Linked DNA regions of Homo sapiens. The protein of the gene in region 3 purifies or fractionates together with the protein of the main gene of each other region. This does not show direct contact. Each region holds a gene or a part of one and is shown on either strand. Other genes may lie near its edges. The genes, in order: VPS13C, STIP1, DNAJC7 and BLTP2.

Evidence for each region.
Region 1: the proteins of DNAJC7 (region 3) and VPS13C purify together in Homo sapiens (co-immunoprecipitation; 5 studies listed by BioGRID and IntAct, with this or other methods). This does not show direct contact.
Region 2: the proteins of DNAJC7 (region 3) and STIP1 purify together in Homo sapiens (affinity purification with mass spectrometry; 4 studies listed by BioGRID and IntAct, with this or other methods). This does not show direct contact.
Region 4: the proteins of DNAJC7 (region 3) and BLTP2 purify together in Homo sapiens (co-immunoprecipitation; 4 studies listed by BioGRID and IntAct, with this or other methods). This does not show direct contact.

Annotation. Positions count from the first base shown.
Region 1 is NC_000015.10:62,057,428-62,064,726, reverse strand, and holds the start of VPS13C (intermembrane lipid transfer protein VPS13C), read left to right. Parts: upstream 1-4,279; 5' UTR 4,280-4,352; coding exon 4,353-4,452; intron 4,453-7,299. UniProt on the Homo sapiens protein: Mediates the transfer of lipids between membranes at organelle contact sites. Necessary for proper mitochondrial function and maintenance of mitochondrial transmembrane potential.
Region 2 is NC_000011.10:64,182,232-64,189,171, reverse strand, and holds the start of STIP1 (stress-induced-phosphoprotein 1), read right to left. Parts: upstream 3,002-6,940; 5' UTR 2,911-3,001; coding exon 2,902-2,910; intron 1-2,901. UniProt on the Homo sapiens protein: Acts as a co-chaperone for HSP90AA1. Mediates the association of the molecular chaperones HSPA8/HSC70 and HSP90.
Region 3 is NC_000017.11:42,014,428-42,021,738, forward strand, and holds the start of DNAJC7 (dnaJ homolog subfamily C member 7), read right to left. Parts: upstream 3,013-7,311; 5' UTR 2,990-3,012; coding exon 2,913-2,989; intron 2,736-2,912; exon of another isoform or gene 2,613-2,735; intron 1-2,612. Other genes in the region: NKIRAS2 (NF-kappa-B inhibitor-interacting Ras-like protein 2), read left to right, coding at 7,151-7,244. UniProt on the Homo sapiens protein: Acts as a co-chaperone regulating the molecular chaperones HSP70 and HSP90 in folding of steroid receptors, such as the glucocorticoid receptor and the progesterone receptor.
Region 4 is NC_000017.11:28,614,144-28,621,166, reverse strand, and holds the end of BLTP2 (bridge-like lipid transfer protein family member 2 isoform 1 precursor), read left to right. Parts: coding exon 1-179; intron 180-536; coding exon 537-658; intron 659-1,151; coding exon 1,152-1,307; intron 1,308-1,391; coding exon 1,392-1,513; intron 1,514-2,195; coding exon 2,196-2,376; intron 2,377-3,789; exon of another isoform or gene 3,790-3,848; coding exon 3,849-3,935; exon of another isoform or gene 3,936-4,167; coding exon 4,168-4,278; exon of another isoform or gene 4,279-4,413; coding exon 4,414-4,549; exon of another isoform or gene 4,550-4,657; coding exon 4,658-4,788; exon of another isoform or gene 4,789-4,882; intron 4,883-4,969; coding exon 4,970-5,071; intron 5,072-5,368; coding exon 5,369-5,503; intron 5,504-5,920; coding exon 5,921-6,103; 3' UTR 6,104-6,721; downstream 6,722-7,023. Other genes in the region: RSKR (ribosomal protein S6 kinase-related protein), read left to right, coding at 7,006-7,023. UniProt on the Homo sapiens protein: Tube-forming lipid transport protein which binds to phosphatidylinositols and affects phosphatidylinositol-4,5-bisphosphate (PtdIns-4,5-P2) distribution.

The DNA.
Region 1 (7,299 bases), on a different chromosome or scaffold from region 3:
ATATTTTTTATAGACATGGGATTTTGCCATGTTGCCCAGGCTGGTCTCAAACTCCTGGGCTCAAGAGATCCCCCAGCCTCGGCTTCCCAAAGTGTTGGGATTACAGGTGCGAGCCACTAAGCCCAGCCTACTTCTTTGTCTTGAAATCACCTCTACTCTTTGCCAAAATTCTTGGGCCAGGGCTAAATCTATGGGAAAAGTTTTATCAAATTATATACTTGAGGGCCATGTGCATGTGTTCTGACTCAGCTTTTCCTGGGAGACAAGAATGTTGTTAGCCCTGTTGAGAGCTCTTGGTTAAAGTGATTAGGAGCACAGATCAGAGTTTACAGTCTGAGAAGTTGGCTGAAAAGTTGTTAAGCAAGTTAATGAACCTGTCTGAGCTCAAGTTATAAAATGAGGGTAATAATACCGACCACATTAAGATTGTTGTGGGGGTTAAAAAGATATGCATGAAAATGCTTGGTTGGCAGTTAAACACTAGCTAACAGTTATTATTATTACTATCATTTTATTATGAATGTTTGCTTGGGCAGGGATTAGCTGATTCATACATGGATTCCTTTAAAAACATTTTTCTCCTCAGGCAAGCAAAGCAGATCTACTTTGTTTTTATTAATGATTCACCTTCTTTAGTAACACCTTAATAGCATTTCCTGTACATGATTTTTTGAAAATAGCAGAGATTTGCCATTGCGTGGCTGGTCCCTGTGACCCTGTTAAGCCTTATGTTTTACTTAACTCGGAAGCACGAACCAACCACCCAGTACTTGGGAGAATGGTGTAACAGGGTGCCCGGAACACACAAATCTACTCACAGGAAGACAGTGGCTGTTCCAAGCTCCCAGCTGTAGCTGTGGGAACATCCAGTATTGGAGCTGGAAAACAATTCTGTAAAGTGAGCATGAATAGACCACATACCATCAAGACCAGAGGTGCTCTAAGAGTAAAAGGAAATTAAACATTTTAAAGCATACTTACAAAAATATAGGAGGTTGAGTGTCAAGGAAAGCAAGAAGAGAGATTACAACCAATAAAACACCAGTGTTCTGACTTATGCATCTTGTTCAACACAACTAGAGTATGGGGTACTGGAAAGAATACAGAGCAGGGAGTCAGGACACTTGGGTTTGGGTTTTTGCTCTGACAGTCACTAACTTGTGGGACTTTGGGCAAACCCTTAATTCTCCCTGGCACTCAGTGTCTCCATCTGTCAATTGAGGGGGCTGGATTAACAGGATGATCCTCCCTCTGGCACTAACATTCTGAAATCCACTCCCGTGCTTTCTCCTAGTTAACCTCCCTAACTTTTCCTGCAGTCCATGGTGTCATGGCTTATACTCCAGCTTTCTCCTCCATTTCCTTTCCCCCAAATTCCTTCTGCTTTTCTCCAAAAACTCTAGGGTTGGGGAATAGGGTATGGGTGGTGGTTAGTGTGAAGTTTTTTTTTTTTTTTTAAACACTTTTGAGTTAATTTTTAAGTGTCCCTAACTTATACTTTTGTTTTTAACAGAAATACTTTGCTCATCTGTTTTTATTGTTTAGTCCCTCATTGAAGTTTAGTTTTGTAATTTCCTTTGTTGTCATTCTCATTGTTCTTAAGCCAGAATGAAGGCAAGAACTATAATTAATTAGAATGCTCATTTTCTTTAACCTCTGTTATCCAAATTATTTCTGATATAATGCCATACATAAGGGTGCTAATGGTGTTTCTTGACATTGGTTATAGTTTGTTTTAAATTGGGACTGTATATTTCTGACTTGTTAAATAATGGAAGATTTGGGGCATTACTGAATGCACATAATCAATCCCTTAAAACATGCTGAAAATGGAAAATAGTAAAATTTAAAGCTTTTTATACTACATGATAATAGCATTTTTTTGTACCAAAAATGTAGAGCCAAATTTTCCACTCTGAGATTTATTTTTTCTGTCATGAACCTTTCAAAGTAAGATCTCTGAAAATGACTAATAGCCCAGTGTTGATTAAATTGTATAATTACCAGAAGAGAAAAGGGTGGCAGTGCTCAGAGAATCAAAGGAAATTAATATCTGCTGTGTGACTTTGGGTAAGTCACTTAACATTCCCGAGCTTAATTTTTCTGTAAAATGAGGACCATACTACTACCTGCATTAGCTACCTCACAGCTCTTTTGTGAGGAGTACACAAAAATGCCTACCTTCGCATAATAATGACATGAGGCCTTACAAAGTATAACTGAAACATAATAAAATTGAATGATGCATATGAAAGCACATTTACACATTATTCTTTCAAAATTACCAAGTTATACCATAGAACTGTAAGGAATTACTTTATTAGACAAAGCATTAGTGTTACTCACTTCTCCCAAGAGATTGTGCCTATTGCTCCACCTGCTTGACCAAGCTATGTTGCCTGTGCCATCTTTCCTATCATCTTATACTGTTATTCATACATCCTTGGATTGGCTTCTTTCTTAACTTTTTATGGTACATGCCTTATCTCAACCAGAACATATATTGCTTCTTTACATTCCTCTTGGAGCATAGTCAGTGTGAATGTAAAAAGGAAGCGGGATTGTTAGAGTGTATGACTAGAAAGAACGTGGAGAAAGTTTGAAGAGAGTGTTCTAAACACTGGGAAGTTATTGGATGTTTTTGAGCAGGTGACTAACCTAAGCTCACCTGTGCTTTGGGAAAACACATCCGGTGTTCATGAGAATAGACTGGAGGAAGGAATAACTGGAGGCTAGGAAGTGAATTTCAAGGAGATGGATGGCATGGTCCAGAAGAAAAACATGGAGAATTTAGGAAAGATGGCAAAAGCAAAATAGACAGGTTAGGCTGTTATTTGGTTGTGGATGGTGAAGAAATCCAAAGTACTTACTAGTATTTTGTCTTTGTGACCAGCTAGGAAAAACAGACGGTTAAGGATTTATCTTCTTAAAGAGGAATGGAGTGTGCAAAAGTGGGAGAGGAATGTGATCTTGATAGTACTAGTTAGTACTGACTGGGTCTTTCTTTGTACTTTTAATTTTATTTAATACACAACACCAATTGTAGCCATTTTGATTTTCTTTCTTCTCCAGCGGACTTTGAATTTAAGATTTTTCTTTGTGATCCTGTGCAAGCCTAGGTTGTTTAAGAAAAATACACGAATAGTTTCTCAGACACTTCCTCGTAGCAAAGCACTTATTAATGCTTGTGACTACAAATAATCAGCATTTCTTAGGTTTCTTCCTGTGTACTGTATCTCAACAACTTTTTGAAATATATTTTAGGAAAAAATTTCTAGTTCTCTAAAGAGGTGAATCTCAATGGGTGGTTAAATTTCACAAGGGTTGAAAGATCTTGTGGTATAAAAGCTCTGCTTTTAAGGTCGTGCTACATCAAAGACAGTTCAACGATAGCATGGAAGAAAGTGATATATAAATAACAAGTAACTCATACTTAAAAAGGCACTACTACGTTTTGTTTTTTATATCTGTAATGAGATAGGTAACTGGTTAGTGGCTAGTGAATTAAAAGCGAATCTTAGAGAAAGGGGAAAAGAACGCGTTTCCCACAAAACGCGTATATTCAGTTCTCATTCTATGATATCTGCCATTTGATGTGGTTCTGTTCCCCTCCTCCCACTTTCAAATTATTTGTCGCGCGCCAGTGGTCCCAGCTACTCGGGAGGCTGACACAGGAGGATCTCTTGAGTCCAGGATGTCAAGTCTGTAGTGAGCTATGATCCCGACACTGCATTCTACCCTTGGCAACAGAGCGAGACCCTGTCTCAAAACAAAACAAAACAGAAACAAAATAAAAAAACAATGTTTTCAAGAAGCAGAGACCAAGCCCCAGGCGGAGTCGAACTCTAGCAGGACAAGAACGCGGTCGGTCCCTTTCCCCCACCTGATCCACAGGTGCAGGGGTGGTTGCCTAGGTGACGCTCAGCGCATACTCCAGGCCAGGCGGCTCCGGACACCGCGATGCGGCCGGAGTTCAACAGCAGGTGACGGCGGGAAAGCAGAGCGGCCACATAGATGTCCCTGTACTCGGTAACTCTTGCCCTCCCTTGTTCTTCTCGAAGGTCCTTTTTTTTCTCGTGCACGGCTGACGAGACAGGCGCAAGCTAACTTCCCCCGCACTCCTCCGTCGGCCTCTAGAGGGCCAGGGCTGCGGCGCCTACAAAGCCTCGGGATCACAGCTGGGCCTCCTTAGCTACCGGCCGGGCGACAGCGCGCCTGCGCACCGGCGGGGTCACGCGCGCGGCGCGGGGGTGGGCCTGCGCCGGAGGGGCTGTCATTTGCAGCGCTGGTCGCAGCCCTCAGCTGCGCCGGGCGGTTCCGGCTCCTCCCTCTCCTTGTGCCTCAGCGCCACCATGGTGCTGGAGTCGGTGGTCGCGGACTTGCTGAACCGCTTCCTGGGGGACTATGTGGAGAACCTGAACAAGTCCCAGCTGAAGCTGGGCATCTGGGGCGGTAAGCGAGAGGGCGCGGCCAGTGGGCTGCGGGCGCTGAGGGCCCAGCCGAGGGCTGCTCCGTCCGGGATTCTGCCCGGGCCCTGCTCCCTGCGCCGCCTGAGACTCCCCATCCCGGTGCGGCAGGTGCTAGATGCGGGAGCCTCTGCCGCCCGCGGATTCTCGGGGTCCCAGTCCCGACTCCGGCTGGGGAGATGCGGCGGGATCCCGCCCGCGCTGCCAAAGTTCCCACCTTTCTCGTCCCCCGAGGCCAAGCCCTGGCCCTGCTGTCCCCGCCCTGCCCGTTTCTGTGGTCCTCTCGCTGCACTCAGGGTGGCCCCTTTGGCCCTACAGCATAAAAACAGAGCCCTTTCTGTTTCGGTATCGCGTGGAGTGAGCATGGTTGTCTGGTCATATACGCTCGAAGTGGCACTAAGAAAAAAGGAGGAAGTTGCATCTCGCAGTTATCTTCACTATCATTTTACAGGGAGCAAGAACTGGGTTCCTTCTCTTTAGGATTACCGGGTTTGGAGAGGAACGGGCAGGAGATCTTTAAGATAGGCGTGTGCTTAGGGATTCTTACTCTTAATGCTTTCAGCTCCTGTGAAAATGATTTCTTCCTTTAATATTTACTTTTCCGTCAATACGAAGAGGATTTTGAATTTTGTTTTGGAGCAATAGAGAGAAATTCAAGCCTCGACCAGCATCGTCATTAATTAGGTGTCTGCTTGGTTGCATGCTCAGGAATTTATGCCAACGTTTTTATCCTGGAGATTAAGTGTATAAAAGTATTCAGGAAATAGTGTACTTAAACATACACTCTTCAACGAGCTTAATCGTTTGCATGAATTACGTGTTAAGCTTTGAGGACTTTGGGACTTTCTCACTCCACAAAAGGTTTGGGAACTTTGTCAGCTTTGGAGGAAAATTCAAAAAACGACTCAAATGTATGGATCTGCTTTTAATTCAAGCAACAACAAATAGCTATAGACTTCCCCTGTCCACTAGGGTAACCACTAGCCACTGTAGCTGTGGAGCACTTGATATGAGGTTAGTGCTAATTGAGACTTGCTGTATGAATTAAAACATCGTTTTGAATAAGCATTACTCCTAATGAAGTAGGAGAAAAAAATAATACCTCAATAATTTTTATGTTGCTTATGTGTTGAAATAATATTTGAATATATTGGGTTAAATTAAATATAATATTAAAGTGTATTTCCCGTGTTTTTTAGTTTTACTTTTTTTCTTTTTAAACTTGGCTTCTAAAATTTATAATTACGTATATGGAACATATATTGGGCAATGCTGTTTATACCCTGAATTACGGAAGAGCCTGGTTGTTGTTGTTGTTGTTTTTTTTTTTTGGCTTGTCTTTTTGAGACAAGGACTTGCTCTGTTGCCAAGGCTGGAGTGCAGTGGCAAGATCGTAGCTCATTGCAGCCTCCAACTCCTGGGCTGAAGTGATCCTCCTGCCTCAGCCTCCCAAAGTGCTAGGATTACAGGTGTGAGCTATAGTGCCTGGCAAGAGCCTGTTTTTAATAGGTGGCTGATCATTTGATTGGTTCACTGTGGTTTGCCCAACAATACAATAGTCCCTTGGTATCTATGGGGGATTGGCTTCAGTACCCCTGACCATACCAAAATTGGAGGTTGCTCAAGTCCCTTAAATAAAATGGCCTAGTATTTGTATGTACCCTATGCATATCCTTCTGTATACTTTTGGTCATCTCTGGATTGCTTATAATACCCAATAAGTAAGTGCTATGTAAATAGTTGTTCTGTTGTTTTTTAATTTGCATTTTTTTATTGCTGAATTGATACTTTTTATTTTTTCCCCCCGAAATATTTTTGGTCTGCAGTTAGTTCAGTCCGTGAATATGGAGGGCCTACTGTACATTCTTTGTTTACATCCCCCCACCACACTCAATACAATGTAAAGGAAAGGTAAGTAAAGAAAGACACATTTAAGGAATTAAATGACCAGCATCTTCTGCAGAAATCAAGTATTTCTTCAGAATACTGGCAATATTCTTTCCAGTGATTCCTTATAGTTTGTAAACATTTGAAACTTGAAAACGCACCGGAGTAGCAAATCTGAAATCTGAATAGGCCTAGTGAATGGTGTGCTGTGTTGGACAAGCCACTTACCTTATTGGGCCTTAGTTTCTTCATCTTAATTTAAACTTTATAGAAAAAATATTTTTAAATTCTGAAAAGTTTAAATCATACTGGATGATATAATACTTTCATGTAATTACTCATATTTCAATGTTATAATATTATGCCATATTTACTTTAGACATTTTCTTTTTAAAAAGATAAAACGTATGGATATAGTCAGAGGTTCCATTGCCATCAAATGTTACTCTCTTTTATCTTTAAAATTGGAGGTTGGACTAGGTAACATCGAAGGTGATGCCAATATTCTGTTCTTCTGATAATGGTTTTACCATGACATTGAGGAGTATACTGCTTGAAGATTTTGAAGTTTTTCACAACTGAAATTAAAAATGTCGTAATTTTATGTTATTTCCCCTTTTGTCTTTTTTTGGTGAAATCTAGAAAAGGAGACTTTCTTTCATCTCATTTTTAAATTTTTAGAATAAGGTATTCTGCCAGTGGCCAACATTAACTTTATAATAGGCCTGAGCAAATAAACCCATTTCTTTCACATATTGTGTCTAGTGAACATCCAATCAGGGATTCTCCTAGCTTTATCAGCTCACAACTCTGCCTCTGTAAAGCTTTGCTGCCTTTTATTTTTGTGGTTGCTATAAAGCTAGAAGTCACGAGCTTTTATCATTATTGCACAGTCTGTTGTTGATAACCCTAATTTCTCAATAAAATTGGAAGGCAAGATATCTGA
Region 2 (6,940 bases), on a different chromosome or scaffold from region 3:
CCAGGCTGGTCTTGAGCTCCTGACCTCGTGATCCACCCGCCTCAACCTCCCAAAGTGTTGGGATTACAGGCGTGAGCCAGCACGCCCGGCCCAGTTTTTCTTTTTTCTTTTGTATTTTTACTAGAGACGGGGTTTCACCATGCTGGACAGGTTGGTCTCAAACTCCTGACCTCATGATCCGCCCACCTCGGCCTCCCAAAGTGCTGGGATTACAAGTGTGAGCCACTGCACCCGGCCCAACTTGAGTATTTTCTAAACTGAAATACAAACCTCACAGTTGAAAATGAAAACAAAAGGTAGAGAAATCGTGTTTGTTTTCAGGAATGGCTTCCAGATGGTGGGCTCAAACACACCTGGGATTAAATGCCAGGTCATCTGTACAGCTGCCATGCCAGTTTGCTGTCCTAAGTCAAATATTCATTCACCATCTACCTACCTGTACATACACTTCTATCACCAGTAGTGGTAATTTAAAAACAAACATTTTAAGACCAGGCAAGGTGACTCACGCCTGTAATCCTAGTGCTAATGAAGTGGGAGGCCAAGGCTAGAGGATTGCTTGAGCCTAGAAATTCGAGACCAGCCTGGGAAACAGCAAGAGCCCCGTCTCTACAAAAAATGTTAAAATTAGCCAGTTGTGGTGGTGTGCCCAGCTACTCAGGAGAGTGAGGCAGGAGGATCGCTTGAGGCCAGGAACTTGAGGCTGCAGTGAGCTATGATCCCACCAGGGCACTTCAGCCTGGGCCACAGAACCAGACCCTGTCTCTAAAAAAAATACAAAATAAATTTGGTAACAGAAATCGTTTCTTTTCTTTTTTTTTTTTTTTTGAGATGGAGTCTCACTCTGTCACCCAGGCTAGAGTGCAGTGGCGTGATCACAGCTCACTGCAACCTACGCCTCCCGGGTTGAAGCAATTCTCCTATCTCAGCCTCTCCAATAGCTGGGATTACAGGCCTGCGCCATGACCCGCTAATTTTTGTACTTTTAGTAGAGAGGGGGTTTCACCATGTTGGCCAGGCTGGTGTAGAACTCCTGACCTCAGGTGATTCGCCCACCTTGGCCTCCCAAAGTGCTAGGATTATAAGCGTGAGCCACTGCGCCCAGCCGAGATCCTTTTTTTTTTTTTTTTTTTTGAGACGGAGTCTCGCTCTGTGGCCCAGGCTGGAGGGAGACGGAGTCTCGCTCTATGGCCCAGGCTGGAGTGCAGTGGCGCAATCTCGGCTCACTGCAAGCTGCCCCCAGGGTTCACGTCATTCTCCTGCCTCAGCCTCCCGAGTAGCTGGGACTACAGGCTCCCGCCACCACGCCCGGCTAATTTTTCTTCTGTATTTTTAGTAGAGACGGGGTTTCACTGTGCTAGCCAGGATGGTCTCGATCTCCTGACCTCGTGATCCGCCTGCCTCGGCCTCCCAAAGTGCTGGGATTACAGGCTGAGCCACGGTGCCCGGCCCCAGATCCTTTCTTAAAGGTAAAAGAGCAACGTCTTATTCCAGAAATCTTTTCCTCACCTATACTACAGCCCATTTAACCCTAGATACAACTGAAATATTATATGGGCACAAAAAAGTTTACTAACTTCATTTCCACTCTTTTTAATACAGCAAGGAAGCTCGAGCTTTGCCTAAAGCAGCAACTGCTACAAGAGACCAAAGGCTCAGCTCTGTAGCTCACACCAAAAAAAGGATGGTAGTCACTAGTCCATCGAGATGTCTTATTTAAGGGGAGAGTGTGGGCGATCTTAGTTTTATGGCCCTGAAGTAAGAACCAGATACCAGGTATAGTTTCAGAATTGTCACCCCCAAGTGTTATGGGCCCGGAGCGAAGACAGTAGTACTCCCGAGCGGGAGGATGATTTCTCGGAGGTTGGTAGAGGTTTCTTGGAGGTTGTTTTGTCCTTTTTCTTCCGATGAATCATTACAGCTCAATGACAGCTTCAAATCGAACAAAACCTCTAGGCCTTTCATAACCGCAAGCTACTGAGGACATAACCAAGTCACTGAAAGGAAGCAGCAACCGCTTCAAACTCGGCCCCTCAAATGCTCAGTAGAGGCCCATAACTTCCAGCGGTTGATCTCTGTAAATTGTCTACAACCACCCCCGGGTCGTCAGAAACCCATCTTTCAGACCCACCTTTCGGAAGTGTTGGTCCTCGGTCACTCGACAATCACACACACAAGCATACAAAAAGAGGGGGAGGGGCCGCAATACATTTGTAAAACACTGTCAGAGATGGAATTCGTCCCAAGGACTTTTGCGGCACCCTTCCCTTTCCCGCATCAGGTAGAGTCGGTCTGTCGCTCCTCAGACCCCCGCTCAACGCTCTCCCACCCTGACCTTCTCAGATGTAGAAGAGTAACATTTGCCCCAACTGCATCCCAGGCTGCTAAGATCCTCGGCTACTCCCAGTGTATCCCCGTCCCCGCTCCCTGGATCCGTCCAAGTTCCTCGTGGCTAAGTCCCGAGCGGTTTCTCCGTCGGCCGTCTGAGATCTCCCGGAGGGCTACCTCGCGGGTGCGGACCCCGGCCCCCGGCCCACCTCCACCCCGCCCCCTGCGGCCCGCACCCTCCCCAACATGGCCCGCAGCCGCCCCCTCGGGACGCCTTCAGGGCCCGGTCGCGACCCCTCTTCCCGCCGCCGGCCGGACTCACCCAAGCTGTGGCCTCCGCCGGGCCCTCCTCGCCCAACCAGGGGGCGATGGGCGCTCCCCGCGGCCGGCCTCGCTAAAGATCCCGCTCCCGCCCGCCGCCCGCGGCCCTCACCTCCCCGCCGCCGCCCCGTCCGGCCCCAGCGCCGAGCTCCGGTCTCCTGGATCCGGCGCCCGCCCCGCCCCCCTACCGCGGCCTGGCCACCGCCGGTCCCCGAGCAGGCTCGGGGCCTCAGCCCGCCCCTCCCCCTTCACCTGCTCCATAGCGCAGCGCGGTCCGGAACCCCGTTGAATCGAATCCGTCCGCTCCGCGTTCCCAACCGCACGCGCCGCCTTCTGGAACCTACTAGAAGCTACCGGGACCCCGGCTCCCGCCCCTTCCTCGCCTGCTCACTGGTCGAGTTCTTCTAGGGGGAATGTCTGTGCTGCTCTACTATTGGCTTGAGGTCCAGCCCATCATCTCCACTTCCTTCTCATTGGACAGCGGGGAGTAATTCCCTCAACCCTGCCTCCCCCGCACCTCAGGATTGGGCGCTCCTCTATAAACCCACCCATCTCAGGCTCCACGAATGGAGGGAGGAGCGAACTTCTGCGACACGGATTGGTCTTTTGCACTGCCAATCGTAGCCGCGCTGGCCGCGCCCATTGGTTCTGATCGTTCTGGAAATTTCCACCTCTCCCATTGGGCTGCCGGACTCCATGTCGGAACCGCCTTCAGAATGAGAGCGATTCCAATTGGGCGGAGGGTTGCCAACTCTTTGCGCTGATTGGTTTAAATCGCTGCCCTTCAAAAGGCCGGGTTTCGCCCCGCCCCTGATATATGGGAGTACCGGCTGCAGTCGGGGTCTGTAGCTGTGTCGCCGGCGGCTGCGGGGCCTCTGGGTTGCTTTCCCTCTCGCTCCCGAGTGCCGCGAGTTCCAGGCGGTCCCCGGGATCGCCAGCGGCACAGGGCCCCAGCCCTTCGCCCGCGCATCGGGATGGGGGTCCTAGCCGGTGGGAGCTGCCTGTCCCTCGAGCGCCAGCTACCCGCGTTGTCCAGCGCTCCGGCCTCGGCCCGGCCCTCCTGCCTCCTGGCTGTTAGGTTCTGAATGTTCCGGAAATGCCACGTGACCGCGAGGGCGCTTGGGCTTGGGCTGGACAGGCCGGGGATCTCACCGCGGCGGGCCCGGCTGTCCCGCTTGGGCGTCCTCAGTGGAACCGCACACCCTTTCTCAGCGCGCCGGTCGTTTGGTCCTGTAGGGCCGAGGGGAATTCGTGCGGTGTTGAGCACGCGGGAAGCACTTAACGAAAGGGAGCTGCCCCTCAGCCCTCGTGAGTCCGATGTAAAGGAGTGAAGGAGACGAAGAACTGAATCAGTAGTTGACCGCCTGTGAGCTGGCGAGCTGTGCCCTGGTAGGGCCTTAAATCCCAGCCCCAGAAGTCGGAGGCAGGGCAGGCACCCCAAAGCGTGGAAGAGATGCACCTGCGGAGTGAAAATGCTGCTATTGCTTCTAGGGTCAGCCTTGGTTCCTGGAACAAAGGAGCCGCATGACTCGGGTCTGGCGATGATGTTGGGCTCTGCAGTGTCCTCATCCTTCCCCCTCTCTGGGTAATGATATCTTCCCAGGGTTTAAAGTGTGTCCTCTCTGCCAGTAGCTTGTCTCCACAGCCTCATCTTTAATTCCACCTGCCCCACCCATTTTGGACACTGCAGCCAAGTTGCAGCAGATCCGCAAACCTGGTAATCCCTCACTTGAAAGTGCTGGAGGCTTTAGGATGGGGTTCAGGGCCTGTGCAATCTAACCGCCTGCTTTTTTTTTTTTTTTTTTTTTTTTTTTTTTGAGACGGAGTCGAATCTCACTGTCTCCCAGGCTGGAGTGCAGTGGCGCCATCACAGCTCATTGCAGCCTCAACCTCCTGAGCTCAAGCCATCCTCCCACCTCAGCCTCCCAAGTACCTGGGGTTACAGGCAAGCACCATTACGCCTAGCTAATTTTTCTGGGTTTTTTTTTTTTGTTTTTTTTTTTGTATAGATGGATTTCGCCATGTTGTCCAGGCTGGTCTTAAACTCTCGCTCTGTCTCCCAGGCTAGAGTGCAGTGGGGCAATCTCGGCTCCCTGCAACCTCTGCCTCCTGGGTTCAAGCAATTATCCTGCCTCAGCCTACCAGTTAGCTGGGATTACATGTGTGCGCCACCGCGCCCGGCTAATTTTTTTATTTTTAGTAGAGGCGGGGTTTCACCATGTTGACCAGGCTGGTCTCAAGACTACTGACCTCAAGTGATCCCCCCCCCCCCCCGCCTCGGCCTCCCAAAGTGCTGGGATTACAGACGTGAGCCACCGTGCCCAGCGGTTTTGCATTTTCAATTGTGGGGCACGGTGAGAAAAGACTTGAAGAAAGCAAGGGAGTGAGATCCATGGAAATGTAGGGGGGAACCTTGCAGGCCTATGGAACAGCCAGTGCAAAGGGCCTGGGGTGGGAGCTGCCTCAGGGTAGCCAGGATGGCAGGAGGCACAGCTGCCGAGAGGAAGCAGGGGCCAGGTCCTGCAAGGTTAGAGGCCATTGCTACTCCTGAACACATTGGCAGGTTTTGAGCAGAGAAGTGACATGATTTTAGTTTTCTCAGGATCCCTCTGGCTGCTGTGTGGAGGAAGAGGGGAGGGTGAGAGCAGGGATACCTCTTAGGAGGCTGTGGTAGTAATCCCAGGGAGCCAGGATGGGAGCAGAGGAGGGGACAGGAATTGGATTCTGGATGCATTTTGGAGGGAGCATGAAGGAAAGCGGGGTCAAAGGTTCCTCTGAGGCCTTGGCTGCCTCTCTTATTCATCTACATCCATTCTGTCAAGGACACCTTTCATTTCTTCTTGGCACTGTCTCAAGGCCACCACGCTGCTGCCCACCTGACCAGCAGTGGCCTTTCCAGGCCTTCCATCTTCTCCCCAGCAGCTTATCTCTGCGTAGCCAGGTCCCATTTCCCACACACCTTTTTTTAAAGTGTGTTGCACTGCTCTGGGTGCAGGACTGTAGCAGTGACCAGGGCAGCTCCAGATGAAGCTTCTGCTCACAGGAACCTTTTCTACTGAAACAGATGATACCTAAACTCTCAGCTGTGTGACTTTAAGCAACTTGCACAACCTCTCTGTACTTCAGTTGCCTCCATCTTCAAATGGGGATTAAAAAGTGTTGACATCATAGTGGTTGTGAGGATTACATGATTTGATAGTTTATAAAGCACTTAGAACTTGTGAAGAAGAGTGCCTGGGGATTGCCTAAGGTCAGGAGTTCAAGACCAGCCTGGCCAACATGGAGAAACCTCATCTCTGCTAAAAATACAAAAACTAACCACGCATGGTAGTGCACACCTCTAGTCCCAGCTACTTGGGGGGCTGAGGCAGGAGAATCACTTGAACCTGGGAGGTGGAGATTGCAGTGAGCCAAGATTGCGCCACTGCACTCCAGCCTGGGCAACAGAGCAAGACTCGGTCTCCAAAGAAAAAAAAAGAACTGCCTGGCTACGGAATAAGAACTACATGGAGTTATTAAATCAAAATCGGTGCACAAATGATAATTCTTAAGAGTGAGTGCTACAGAGAACACAAAAGGCAAGGCACAGAGAGATGACCTGGGAGGCAGGGAAGGAAAGCATTCCCAGAGGTGAGTGGTTAGTGAAGGCTTGTCAGAGATGGGACGAGGAGAAGCCTAGGGGGCACAGAAGATGCAAAGGTGCTGAGGCCAGGGCAAATTCAGAATTTTTTTTTTTTTTGAGATGGAGTCTCGCTCTGTCTCCCAGGCTGGAGTTCAGTGGTGCAATCTCGGCTCACTGCAACCTCCACCTCCTGGGTCCAAGCAATTATCTGCCTCAGCCTCCAGAGTAGCTGGGATTACAGGCATCCACCACCACGCCCGGCTAATTTTTGTGTTTTCAGTAGAGACAGGATTTCACCATCTTGGCCAGGCTGGTCTTGAACTCCTGGCCTCATGATCCACATGCCTCAGCCTCCCAAAGTGCTGGGATTACAGGCGTGAGCCACCGCGCCCAACCCAGAATTCTCTTTTTTTGGGGGGGGGTGGGGGACAGAGTCTCACTCTGTCATCCAGGCTGGAGTGCAGTAGCGCGATCTTAGCTCACTGCAACCTCTGCCTCCCAGGTTCAAGCGATTCTGCCTCAGCCTCCCGAGTAACTGGGATTATAGATGCCCGCCACTACGCCTGGCTAATTTTTTTTTTTTTTTTGTATTTTTAGTAGAGATGGGGTTTTACCATGTTGGCCAGGCTGGTCTCAAACTCATTACCTCCAGTGATCCACCTGCCCTGG
Region 3 (7,311 bases):
AATGATGGGATTACAAGTGTGAGCCACTGCACCCAGCCAATTTTCCTTTTGATTTGTGCAAAAAAGTGGTATATAATAAATAACTATGTTTAAGTCTGTCGAAAACAGTGCTATATATGAGAAACATAAAAGTCTGATAAGAATGCATTTTTTTCTTTTTTTAATTGATTTTTTTTTTTTTGAGACGGAGTTTTGCTCTTGTTGCCCAGGCTGGAGTGCAATGGCATGATCTCCCCTCACCACAACCTCTGCCTCAGCCTCCTGACTAGCTGGGATTACAGCATCACCCCACCTGGCTAATTTTTGTATTTTTAGTAGATGGGGTTTCACCGTATTAGTCAGGCTGGTTTCGAACTCCTGACCTCAGGTAATCCACCCGCCTTGGCCTCCCAAAGTGCTGGGATTACAGGTGTGAGCCACCACGCCCAGTCTTTTTTCTTTTTTTAATTAATTTTTTTCTGTCACTATTTGAACTACAGGAATAATGCATGTTGTCATGTTTAATTTACAGTTACATTTTCTTAGTGACAGATAAAATAATTTGCATTCTGCAATCAATGACTTTTTTTTGAGATGGAATCTCACTTTGTCACCCAGGCTGGAGTGCAATGGCCCGATCTCAGCTCACTGCAACCTCCACCTCCTGAGTTCAAGCGATTCTCCTGCCTCAGCCTCCCGTGTAACTGGGATTACATGTGTGTGCCACCACGCCCCGCTAATTTTTGTATTTTTAGTAGAGACAGGGTTCTGCCATGTTGGCCATGCTGGTTTCAAACTCCCGACCTCAGCTGACCCACCTGCCTCGGCCTCCCAAAGTGCTGGGATTACAGGTGTGAGCTACTGCACCCAGCCTAATGACACTTAAATTCCATGAAATAAGGTAGTTTACCTTATTTTGTTGTACTGCTATCAAATACCATGTTTTGTGTGATGTGGTCACATTACAGCATAACCTATTTTATTATATGTCTTCAGGTTCATTTACTCCAATTTTATGATAGACTATCCTCTAAGGCTGTGATTGAAGAAATGTATTTGCTTAAGATAGGAGGCTATGAAATGAAGTCCAAAATAGGGACACTCTACATCAGAGATTTACAATGAGTAGGGTGAGTTTTTAAAATTACCTATGGCCAGCCCGGCACAGTAGCTCACGCCTGTAATCCCAGCACTTTGGGAGGCCGAGGTGGGCGGATCACGAGGTCAGGAGATCGAGACCATCGTGGCTAACAGGGTGAAACCCCATCTCTACTAAAAATACAAAAAAAAAACAACAATTAGCCGGATGTGGTGGTGGGCACGTGTAGTCCCAGCAACTGGTGAGGCTGAGGCAGGAGAATGGTGTGAACTCAGGAGGCGGAGCTTGCAGTGAGCTGAGGTCGCGCCACTACACTCCAGCCTGGGCGACAGAGCGAGATTCCGTCTCAAAAAATAAAAAATAAATAACCTGTGGCCAAATCCCTATTTACAGTATAAAGAACCACTGAACTCTTTCCAAATACAAGTAAATCTCTACAATTAATTTAAGCTCCGTCTGCACTGGGAGGAATTTTGTTTCCCATTGTGCAGCTCTTTAATGATGTATAAGGGTTGATGATGCTTAGCTTTAAATATCTAGGAAGAAGTAGGAACAACATGAAAGCTCAAAATTAAGAACAGAGACTGGACTCTGGTGTCCTGGCTTCTCTGATATCCCAGGGGCCTATTACACTTTGTCAGGCCCCTCAGCTCCCAGCAGATCAGGAACTTGAGATCTGGCTGTGGTAACCACCCTCAAGCTTGATAACTATTCATTGCGTCCGAGTACTTCTTATATTTCGAACTCATTAGATAGTAAAAATCTCAGAATCCTGATTTCAGATCTCATGAACTAATTCTACATCACCGCCTCAAATTACCCAGCCTGAAGACACAACGGGCTTGGTATGAAGATATAAAGTATGTTGCAAAGAGACTGAGGGCACTGTAGATATCTTGAACAAAAGGGTCAGACTAACCCGCAGCTGATAAGGAAAGGGCTCCAAACTTCTAGAACCTTCTTGTCAATTCTGCTTTAGGATTAGAACAAGTATGACTACCCACAACTCTGTTCCAACCCCACTTCCAATAATCTGGCCTAACTGTTGCCAGAATCTAGAGCGTTCTCGAAAACCACTCACTCAGCAGCTCCCTTGGCTAGTCCGACTGGCAATCTCGAACCACTGCGGCTGCTTCGGAGTGCCAACAGCGCCCAAGCAGTTGCCCTCTTCCTTGGTGCTTAACTTAAGAAAGAACAGTGCTGGGAAGGATAAAGATCACCCAGGAAGGACAGGGGAAGAGGAGTCTGACGTAGAGAACACGAGATAAGCCCCTCGCTCTTCCTTTTTTTCTCTGTCATCTTTGACTTCTGGGATAACCGGGGGCAACCAGGTCAATTATGGAGACACACAATCACTTCGAACCCAGACTAGTGATCGCTGGGGTATAATTACAAGGGAAAACGGGGTGAGGAGAGCAAAGGTTTTGGAGACGGAAAGTGCAGACAGGCAACAATGCACAGAAGTTAACAAGAGAACGCGGGGGTCGGGGGCGATGTAAGGAAGTCGTCATCGACGCCGCGCCGCTTCCCCCACCTCGCACCAGACCTCTGAAATTGCCCTCGGAGACTCGGCCTCTCCTATAAGGACGATCGTCCTCTCAGCTGGAGAACAAGGCCATGCCTCAGCTCCTACGCCAGGCGGAAGCGGGAGAGGAAGGCCGACCCCCAAGAGCGCCCCTTCAGGGGGTCCATCCGGCCTTGATCTCAGATGGGGGGGTGTTTGCGGAGGGCGGGGCATCGCCTCAACAGCTGGGGGCTGCATCATGGCAGGAACGAGTTTCCCTGAGCCACGGAGCTGCAGGTCGCCTCCTCTACTACCCTGCTACCCGGTTACCTCTTCGCCTCTTGGTCGTCGAGCAGCTCCGGCTCGGTCGCCGCCATTACCACATCGCACTCCGCGGCAGCCGCCATCTTACCGCCGGGACCAGAGAGCTGGGTGGGAGGCCGGCGGTGAAGAGCACTTCCGGTTGGAGCATAGAGCAGCTCCGCGGCGCCGCGCCCAGAAGGGCTCCCTCGGGCTCGTCTACCAGAGAGAGGCTCCGCTTGGGGCCAGAGCGGCCTCCCGCCCCCGGATGTCCACGGTGGTCTCCGCGCCGGGGCGGGAGCCCAGGGGCTGTGCCGGTGCGTAGGCGGCGCCACTTTACCCGTGGGTGGGAAGGCGGGGTGTACCGGTGGTAGCCTCTCTAGGGCTTGGCTGCTTTCAGTATTCCAAGAGCCTCATTGCCATAGCAACTTCCAATCCTAGAGAGTCTTCCTGAAAGGCTCCGTGGAGTCTGGGTTGCGTGGGGACCAGGTGACCCAAGACTCTGTAGGGAAGGAGTCCCCACTGCTACCTTTCCGACCTTGGAGTGTGTCCACAGCTTCTTCCCGGGAAAGTCAAGAGACACTTTGAGCTCAGTTCCCCCAGCTTTCATCGTTCTCTGGAAGCCCTGCCCAGTCAAGCCAGGGGAACGCAGGGCGTCTTCACCCTGCGCCTTTCATCCACTCCGGATCTCCAAACACCAACTGGTTCATCACCCTAATGACGCTGACCCTTTTACAAGGCTCCTTTCATGTCAGCCGCCTGGGAGTGCCATCTCAGCATTAAGCCTAGGAAAGCTGACACATGGCGCCCCAGACCCTGCCCTGGAGTTTATAAGGAAGCTCGCGGGGTGAGGTCCTTGCTCTTGTGTCCCCAGTACTCCCACCTCTTATATAAACTCTCTACTCATCACGCTTGCCTTGCCGAATGCGGTCTGGATTGAGAATTCATAGGGGACAAGGGCACAGTTTAACTGTCTTTGTTGTTATTCCCTCACCCAAACGACTATTTGTGGAGCTGAATTAAATTGGAGCTTTCTGGGGTTAAATTGGAGGAGTATGAGGAGTAGCTTTACAATGTAAAGCTAAGAGTAAAATAAGAAGAGGGCAAAGGAATTTTAAAAGGATTTACCTGTTTGTTCCAGGAAAACAGCATGTGCCAATGCTCATACTCTGCCTATCCCAGTGTGGAGGGAGCTGAAACCACAGCGACCACTGAGTAGGGAGGGATAGGACAAGCTCACTAGGTTGGAAAGGAGGGGTCATTCGTTGAGCCAATCACTCAGCCCTTTCCAAAACGCCTACTCTGTGCTAGGTTGTGAGGGCACAAGACTTACAGACCACCTGCCCTGCCTGCCAGTGGCTCATAGTCCAGTCTAATGCTAGCCAACCTGTCTCACCATCTTCCCACTTTATGTTCTATCTAAGGCAACTCATTTATTCCCACAGCTTTACTTCCATCTGTTGATGACTCTCAACTTTTCATATCTCCAACCTAGACCTTTCTTCAGCTTCCACAGCTGTATATCCAACTATCTACTGGATATCTCTTGTATGTTTCACAAATCCCCAAGGCTTACCATATTTAAATTTAACTTTTTCATTGTCTACCCACACCTCAACAACAGAAAAAACAAATGTTGGATGTAATTATTATCTTTCCTAAATTCCGTATCTTGTTAAATGGATTAAACCATTCTCACTCTTGGCTTCCAATTTGTTGCCAAGTTTTGTTGATTCTCCTACCAAATATTTCCCAAATCTATCTCCACCTTTCCATCCCGATTCAGGCGCTCATCATTTTTTAAAATCTTGGAATAGGCTGGGTGTGGTGGCATGCATCTGTAGTCCCAGCTATTTGGGAGGCTGAGGCAGGAGGATCACTTGAGCCCAGGAGTTAGAGGCTGCAGTGAGCTATGATCACACCAATGTACTCCAGCATGGAGAAAAGAGCAAGACCCTGTCTCAAAAACGGCAACAACAACAACAACAAAACAACAGAAAAAAAAACTTGGAATACATCAATAGTCTCCTAATCGGTCTCTAATTTCATCTCTGTTCAGTCTTCCCTCTTCTGCCAGAGTGACCTTCCTCAGGGACTGATCATGTCTCTTCATTGGCAATGGCTTTCCATTGCCGTCAATTTGATCTCTTTGGCCTACCACACAAAGCCTTTGATTATCTGTTTCTTTTTTTAAATAATTTAATTTGAGTACCAATATTTAGGTCCTTTCTACCACCAATATTGAACCCAAGTTCTCATAGTTTCAGAAAATGCCATGACTTGTAGCCGTTTCCTCCACCCTAGAACACCCTTTCCCCCAGGCCCTTCAGTGTCTGCTGACTCAACGTTAAATGCCCTTTTGCTGTGCTCCACAGCACCTCAGTAGTTGTTAGACATCTAGCTTCTCTAGACCGTGAGTTCTGATGGGCAGCCACCATGTCTAACTCGTCCACTTTCTCTCAGTATATGGCCCTGCACCAGGCACAGACAGATGATGCTCAGAAAACATTTGACGAATAAATGATTGAGTAAACGAAGAGTTACTGTACTCTGATCGCCTTTACAGAGAGAACATCTGGGCCTCAGAGACACCAGAACACCCAGCGGCCCGCGTCCAGGGAGTCTAGAACCTTGGGCTCCCGCGCACACCCAGGCCAGGTCCTGGCCGTCATTCTCCCGCCGGCCTCTGGGGGAGCTGCGCGGTCCGCGCTCTCTCTCCGCTGCCGGAATTCGTCTTGCCTGACGGAAGCTGGGGAGCGGGCAGGCGGCGGGGGCGGGGCCTGGAGGAGCCTACACCGACTCTGGAGGAAGACTGGAGCCTTTGCGGCGGCGCTGCCCCTCCCCTGGTCCCCGCGAGCTCGGAGGGCCCGGCTGGTGCTGCGGGGGCCCCGGGAGGTACGGACCTGGGAGGCGAGGCTCGTCCGGCGCTAGGATCGGCCTCCGCCTCCGGGCCGCTTTAGGTGGCTGGTCTCTGCCTCTCATTCCCTCTGGGGGCTCCCCCGTGAGAAAATCTGTGGCGGAGGCACCTCTGGCCCACTCTTATGGTGTCCTTTATTGTGGGGCTCGCTATATGGAGAGGGGGTCTGTGTCAGGAGCTTCCCCTGGAGAGGTTTCTGTTAGGGACCGTCTTTGGGAGTGATCTATCTCTGCTCTCTGGGGGGGATCTTTGTCTGGAGCTTTTGGGGGGCTTGTGTTTGGAAGTTTGCCTTCGGGGAGATATCTGTCTGGGACCTCTTAGGGTTTCTGTATCTGAGCTTTCTCTTTTGTGTCTGTCAGTCCAAGGGCAGCAAAAAGTATGTCCTTTCTGAAGCCTTTTTTTCCGTAGGTTTCTTCATTCTTTTCTCTCTTGTCTTATGTTCATTTTAGCCATAGACTTGACTGGAGTTTAGAGGGAATTGATTGTTGTCCAGATGAGTCGTACAGGAAAGCAGATTGTCTTTTTTTGAGACGGAGTCTTGCTCTGCCGCCCAGGCTGGAGTGCAGTGGCATATTCTTGGCTCACTGCAATCTCCGCCTCCTGGATTCAAGCGATTCTCCTGCCTCAGCCTCTCAAGTAGCTGGGATTACAGGCACCCGCCACCACGCCTGACTAATTTTTTGTATGTTTAGTAGAGATGAGGTTTCACTATGTTGGCCAGTCTGGTCTCGAACTCCTGACTTTGTGATCTGCCCACCTCGGCCTCCCGAAGTGCTGAGATTACAGGCGTGAGCCACCGTGCCCTGCCCCAGATTATCCTTTTTATTTGCTCAGTCCCCCCAGGGAGCAGATGGCTTCAGACAGCCACACAAAACACTGTTCCTGCTTAATTCTCCATGGGGTCATGGTTAAAGAGAGGAAGCTGGGCTGAGCTCCCTTTACTAATTGGTCCTCTACATCTTGCGCACAGAAGGGAACCTGGCCCAGTGGCCAGTGACTCTCCTCTCCCTTTATGGCAGCATTTCCAAGCACCTGCCCTGTGACAGATACTGGCTAGGTACTGGGGATAACAAAGACGAATAAAATAACAGCTTACCATCCAGTAGTAGACATGGAGACATCCGTTTCCTCTGACTAGCATTGGGATGGTGCTGAAACCCTGGAACTATACATTCAGTTTAGAACTATACATTCAGTTTAGAACTCTCAGTTATGGACGTTCTGCCTTCTGTTTTTTTGGTTTTTGTTTTTGTCCACCAGAAAACATCTGCTAGTAACTGCCTTCTGTGTTGATGCTTTCTTTCCTCACCTTACCCAGCGTGCTTCTGTTCTTCAAGGTTGAAAACTAAGCATGGGGAAGAGCTGCAAGGTGGTCGTGTGTGGCCAGGCGTCTGTGGGCAAAACTTCAATCCTGGAGCAGCTTCTGTATGGGAACCATGTAGTGGGTGAGTGTTGTTGGAGGGGGAGGAACAGTGGAAGAAGTTGAAAAATAAGGAATAGGACTTGATCACA
Region 4 (7,023 bases), about 13 Mb from region 3:
GAACCAGCCAGCTGAGGCACAGCAAGCCCAGCAAGTCCAGCGGATCATTTCGCGTTGCAACTGCCGAATGTACTATATTAGTTACAGCCATGACATTGATCCTGAACTAGCAACTCAGATTAAGCCACCTGAAGTTCTTGAGAACCAGGAAAAGGAAGATCTCCTAAAGAAGCAGGAAGGTATTCAGGGCTTGAAAGGCTTTTAGGAAGGGACTAGAGAAATTGTGAAAGTAGTTATTTCCTTGGTGGTTTTGAGACAGTAGAGTTATTAAAAATCCACTGTGCACTGGCATTAACATTTCACTTTGCTCTACTTTTTGTAAGTTCTGCTATGAGAAAATAACCTCTATTCTTGGAGGGAGCTGGGATGAATGGGCATTGTTTATGATTCTGAAGTAAACATGTTTCTGCCCATGAGCAACTCTCACCCTTTCTGTGGGGTTGACTAGTGGGGTGGTTCCAAATGTGGGTTAAGAGATGGAGTAGATATTTAGGTAGAAACTTGAGCCTTTTATTTAGCTGCTAACAATTATCTAGGGGCTGTGGATACCTTCACCCTTATCCACCATGAGCTGGAAATTTCCACCAACCCAGCTCAGTATGCCATGATCCTGGACATTGTCAACAACCTGCTGCTCCATGTAGAACCTAAGCGGAAGGTGAGCATGGGCCCTTGTAGAATGCTGGTTAGCCTCACAGGAACACCCAGACTTTGTGCTTTATTTGGGCTTCTGTAACAAAAGCCATGCTTCACACTGAAAAAGGGCCTTGTGGTTGGTAGATTCTCTTAGTCGGCAGTGACAATTGAAATTCCACTTACTTAGGAAAGGCCTGAATATCTCTCAGACCGTAGGGCTTGTTTGCCTGATTGTTTTCTCCTAGTCATTTCTCTACTCAGTCACCTAGACACCTCTAAAAACATTTACTATTCCCTGCTTCCACCTCCATCCCATCCTGTTGGGCCTGACCTATTGTGAAATCCACATTGCCACATTTTCTGCATTGACCTACTACTGTTGCTATTACCAGTGACAGATAAAGGTTAGCTTTCTAGAAGAGACCCCCCCCATTTCTTTCTCCTTTCTCTATTTCACTTTACTACAAGACTTGTCTACTTAAAAATCATATTCATTTCCCTTTCCATTCCTTTAGGAACATAGTGAGAAGAAGCAACGGGTCAGGTTCCAGCTTGAGATCTCTAGCAATCCAGAGGAGCAACGCAGCAGCATACTGCATTTGCAGGAGGCTGTGCGGCAGCATGTGGCCCAAATACGACAGCTGGAGAAGCAGATGTATTCTATCATGAAGGTAGTCACTGCAGATAGATAGTTTGAGAACCAGGAAGTCTCCTAGAACGAGGGCGGTCTCTCAGTTTCTATCCTGGTTCCCTAGTCTTTGCAGGATGACAGCAAGAATGAGAATCTGCTTGACCTGAACCAGAAGCTTCAGTTGCAGCTAAACCAGGAGAAGGCCAACCTGCAGCTGGAAAGTGAAGAACTGAATATCCTCATCAGGTGCCCCAGCATTCTTTCCTTGCCCTTTTCCAGTGCCCCAGCTAGAGGCAGTTCTCTTTCTTGCCCATGTTTTGACTGTCTTTAGGTCTAGTGTGCATTATCAAAGGCTGATGTAGGAGTAGGTTCAGACATCTCTTCCTGAATAAGAAAATGGGTAGTTGGGAAGGATCACTTTTTTTTTTTTTAGAGACAAAGTGGTCTCACTATGTTGACCAGGCTGGTCTGGAACTCCCGGGCTCAAGCAGTCCTCCTGCCTTGGCCTCCCAAAGTGCTGGGATTACAGGCGTGAGCTGGGATTACCACACCCAGCTGAAAGATCACTTTGGTGGCCTTGATACTATGCATCTGAACTGAAAATATCTTTTTTTTTTTAATGAACCTGACATAAACATATGAAAATGTCTTGAAGTTGATCAGTATACAGTTGCAGATAAAATTGTAGGAATTATTAGTGGGAAGACACTACTTTATCAAGAAGCTATAGAGCTGAAAGATGGGATTTGTGCTCCTATGACCTAGAATGTCAGGAGCAATAAATTCAGTGAAAAAAATGTAGGGACTGGCTAACCCAGAATAGGTTAATTTCTGGGTTTACCTCCTGCATCATTCTAGAGCATTCTATCCCACCCCCAACCCATGTGCTGTTTCCCTTACTGGCTTTGGCTCCCCTGTCCACTTACAGGTGTTTTAAGGATTTCCAACTGCAGCGGGCTAACAAGATGGAGCTGCGAAAGCAGCAAGAAGATGTGAGTGTGGTCCGTCGCACTGAGTTTTACTTTGCTCAGGCACGGTGGCGCCTGACAGAGGAAGATGGACAGCTGGGAATTGCTGAATTAGAACTGCAGAGGTTCCTCTACAGCAAGGTATCTGGGGTATATGGTCACACAAAGGCAGCTGTATTGAGAGACATTGACCTAGCTTAGGAGTCTAACTCATAAAAGAGAAATAAAAGGGGGTTAATTATTGTATGATTATTAATGATAGTATCATTAATATTAACGAGCTCATTAATCATATTAATGAGCAGAGCTTCCTTAGATATATCTGTTTATAATGAATGATACACATATAGCTCTGATGCCATAGGGGGAGAGTAAGAATGAACAAAGAAATAAAATAATTTTTAAAAAATGATACAGGCCACGTGTAGTGGTTCATGCCTGTAATCCCATAACTTTGGGAGGCTGAGGTGGGAGGATTGCTTAAAGTCAAGAGTTCAACAAAAATTTTAAAAATTAGCTGGGCATCGTGGTGCATACCTGTGGTCCCAGCTACTTGGGAGGCTGAGGCAGGAGGATTGCTTGAGCCCTGGAGTTCGAGCCTGCAGTGAGCTGTGATCACACCACTGCACTCCAGCCTGGGCAACAGAGTGAGACCCTGTCTCTAAAAAAGAAAATAAATAATTAAAAACATATATGATAGGCCGGGCACGGTGGCTCACACCTGTAATCCCAGCACTCTGGAAGGCCGAGGCAGGTGCATCACCTGAGGTCAGGAGCTGAAGACCAGCCTGGCTAACATGGTGAAACCCCATCTCTACTAAGAATACAAAAATTAGCCAGGCGTGGTGGTGCACGCCTGTGGTCCCAGTTGCTTGAGAGGCTGAGGCAGGAGAATCGTTTGAACCTGGGAGGTGGAGGTTGCAGTGAGCCGAGATCGTGCCACTGCACTGCAGCCTGGTGACAGAGCAAGACTCCATCTCAAAAAAAAAAAAAAAAAAAAGAAAATTGGGTGTGGTGGTGTGTGCCTGTAAGCCCAGCTACTCAGGAGGCTGAAGCAGGAGAATCGCTTGAACCCAGGAAGGAGATGGATGTTGCGGTGAGCCAAGATTGTGTCACTGCACTTCAGCCTGGGCAACAGAGTGAGACCCTGTCTCAAAAAAATAAAAATAAGATACAGATACAGGTGAGTTTGATCAGATGCTTCTCTTGTTGAGTAAGAAGATGATCCCTAGAAGTATGGCCCAGAGGCAAATAATCTTTCATGTCTAGCTTGGAATAGAATATTCTAATACTGACATTCAGCTTTTCTGCCATTGACGTAAAGAAGGCAGTATTATTTATTACTTTCTCCTACCAGAGGCGTTTGGAAATGAATTAGAACATTTTTTAATGTCACAATGGCTAGATAGTACTACCAGCATTTAGTGTCCTGGACAATAGTGCCCATGAGACACACTGGATTAAAGAGTGTTGATTGTATGAGTTTGAAGGAGATCTCAAGGTTGGGATTAGGCATATGTAGAGCCTGAAAACAAACTGGATACATAACAATTGTCTAGTAGACTTCTGAGAAAGGTTTATTATAGTAGATGGGGCAAAATCTGTCTTTATAGGTGAATAAGTCTGATGACACAGCAGAACATCTTCTGGAGTTGGGCTGGTTTACCATGAACAACCTCCTCCCCAATGCTGTCTATAAGGCAAGTCTTTTTTCCCCTTTCCTAGTCCATTTGCATGTTTTTAGCACGGGGCATTTATAACGGCCCTTCAGTATAAATCCACTATGGAAAACAATGTGGTGATCTGAGAGGGTGAAAGCTTGCCCAGCTTAGCAGTACCATTGCTTCTCCTCTCATTCTGCAGAGGATTTGTGGGTTGCTTTATGGCAGGAAGGACATTGGGTTGGGCTCTTCTTTACTCTCTATCCTACAGGTAGTACTGCGGCCCCAGAGCTCCTGCCAGTCTGGGCGACAGCTAGCTCTCCGCCTCTTCAGCAAAGTTCGGCCCCCTGTTGGGGGTATCTCTGTTAAGGAGCATTTTGAGGTTAGTAAGCAGTCCCTTAGGGACCTGGGAACAAGGGACATTCAAAAGCCACCTGTGTGTTACACGATATTAGGAGTAGGTAAACTGATGATGGTATCTGAGCTTAATTGCTTCTTGAATCTTTTTCCTTTTTAGGTAAATGTGGTGCCTCTCACCATCCAGCTGACACACCAGTTCTTCCACAGAATGATGGGCTTTTTCTTTCCTGGCCGAAGTGTGGAAGATGATGAAGTTGGTGATGAAGAGGATAAGTCCAAACTGGTGACTACTGGTGAGAACTTTTATGGTGGAGCCCCAGAAGAATAGGGTAGCAACCCCAAAGACAGCTGAGACTTCAGAACGAGGATGGATGACAGCTGGTACACTTGCTTTTTCATAGGAATACCAGTGGTGAAGCCTCGGCAGCTGATTGCAACAGATGATGCAGTACCACTGGGCCCTGGGAAGGGTGTGGCACAGGGTTTGACTCGGAGTTCTGGGGTCAGAAGGTCATTTCGCAAATCGCCAGAGGTACCAAACATGCCCCTGATGATAGAAAAATGGGAGAGTCTTGAGGTCCTGTTTGGTGTGGCTTGGGATTTCTTCGGTTTCCTCTAAGTCCATTCTAGGGATAAAAGAAGAGGGAGATGTTTGGGGTCCTGAGTTTCTTCTGATGGATTCAGGGCTCACACTCCTTGCCTGCCTTTCTTAGCACCCTGTGGATGACATTGACAAGATGAAAGAGCGAGCTGCCATGAACAACTCCTTCATCTACATAAAGATTCCACAGGTTCCACTGTGTGTCAGCTACAAGGTCTGCACCTCTCAAGCACTTTGTAGAACAGGGTGGGAAGGGAACCAGATAAGATCAGAGATTCTATACAGGGAGACAGCTAGGTTGTTTGTGATGCTGAGCTGTGGGTGATAAATCTGCTGTTCCCTCTGCTCCCCTCAAGAGTCAGCATCATTACGAGGCTGAGGTAAGGGGAAATCAGTATCTGTAGGTTACTATTGTAGGACTTGGCACTCAAGTGGCTGGCTGGGACTCAAAATGGCAGCTGATGTATTCCCCACCCCTCTTTTTTTCTTTCCCCTCCCCCTCCTCTTACAGGGTGAGAAGAACAGTGTGGACTGGGGTGACCTTAACCTGGTGCTGCCCTGTCTGGAGTACCACAACAACACATGGACATGGCTAGACTTTGCCATGGCTGTCAAAAGGGACAGCCGCAAAGCCCTGGTTGCCCAGGTATCCCGCCAGGGCTCATGGCTGTTTGGCTAATGGGGCTGGCAGGCAGATCCTCTTTTCAGGAGCCTTTCATTTTAGAATCCATGAATAAATATCCTTGGGAAGGGGCAGGTGCATGAAGTGAGTGGCTTCTATGCCTACCCTCTCCATGACCTCACTCAGATTATTAAATTCAGTGTTTACTGAGTGTTTCGTATAGCACCATTGATTTTAGGGAACTGAGAGCTAACACAACCTAAAGTTTAGAAGGGGTTATAATTAGACTGTAAGCTTCTTGAAAGCAGAGACCATTGTATGTGAATTGCCCCATTGTGCCTTGGATGTGTTTAATAAATCTTTATTGTCTTGGTTCATTTTGATTTATTCTGCCTGCCCACTAATATTTACATTTTCTTTTACTCCTCTCCAATCTGCCAGGTAATCAAAGAGAAGCTAAGGCTGAAGTCTGCAACAGGCTCTGAGGTCCGGGGAAAGCTAGAAACTAAATCGGACCTGAACATGCAACAGCAGGAAGAGGAGGAGAAAGCCCGGCTCCTCATTGGTTTAAGTGTGGGCGACAAGAACCCTGGCAAGAAGTCCATCTTTGGCAGGCGCAAATGATTTGGCGATTCGAGTGGCTGCAGTACAGGATCTGACTCTGGCTCAGGCTCCAGGGACTTGTGGGGTGGGAGGGGCTTCCCGTTATCCACGAGGATTTGTGGGTGTCAGAGCCCATAGGCATCACTCTTCAGCACCTGGTCTGTTCGCTGCAGGGCATGGTGGACAGTAATGCTGAGTTCTGTCTCACACTGATCAGGCTCAGGGCCAGAGAGGCAACAAGAGAGCAAGACCCAGGGAATGGGCCCAGGGCAGGACCCTATTCCCTTGGGGTCAAGTGAAAGGGTAGGGGGATAGTCCTGATCAAGTGTGATAAATTTTTATAGACATATATAAATATATATATATTATATATATATTTCTAAGTGTAACTGTCCTTCCTCTGTGCCAGGAAACGGGAGGGGGCTGATCCTCTGATCCTCACTCCACTGTCATGTTTGAAAGAGGTATTGGTGTTCTGGAGTGGGGGTCAACCCCTCCCCAGTCTCTGTGCTAAGTTCACTTGGGAGGATGGCAGTAGGAGCCAGGGCTGGCCATGGGTCCCCTACCCTTCCCCGTAGGATATACCCTGGAGAATGGCAAAATGATTTAAAGAGAAAAAAAAAGATATTTTAAATTTGATGCTCATTTTTGTGTGTGTGTGTTGAGTGCATGCATTCAATCTGTGTATTCCTCCCTCATCAACCCAGAACATCCTGCAGCTGCCACTCTGAGGGTGGCCCCTTCCTTCCTCTGCCCTGAAGCTGTATCACAGAAATTTCTAGTCCTAGTGTGACTCTGGCCCCATGCTGATGGGTTTCTGCAGACTGGAAGAGGCGGGGCTCGTGTCACGCAGCATCAGGGAGAGGAATTGCTTATATAACTGGGACAGCAGATTTAGCAGAGAGAGGAGGCAGAGGCTGGGAATGGGAGCAGTAAGCTGT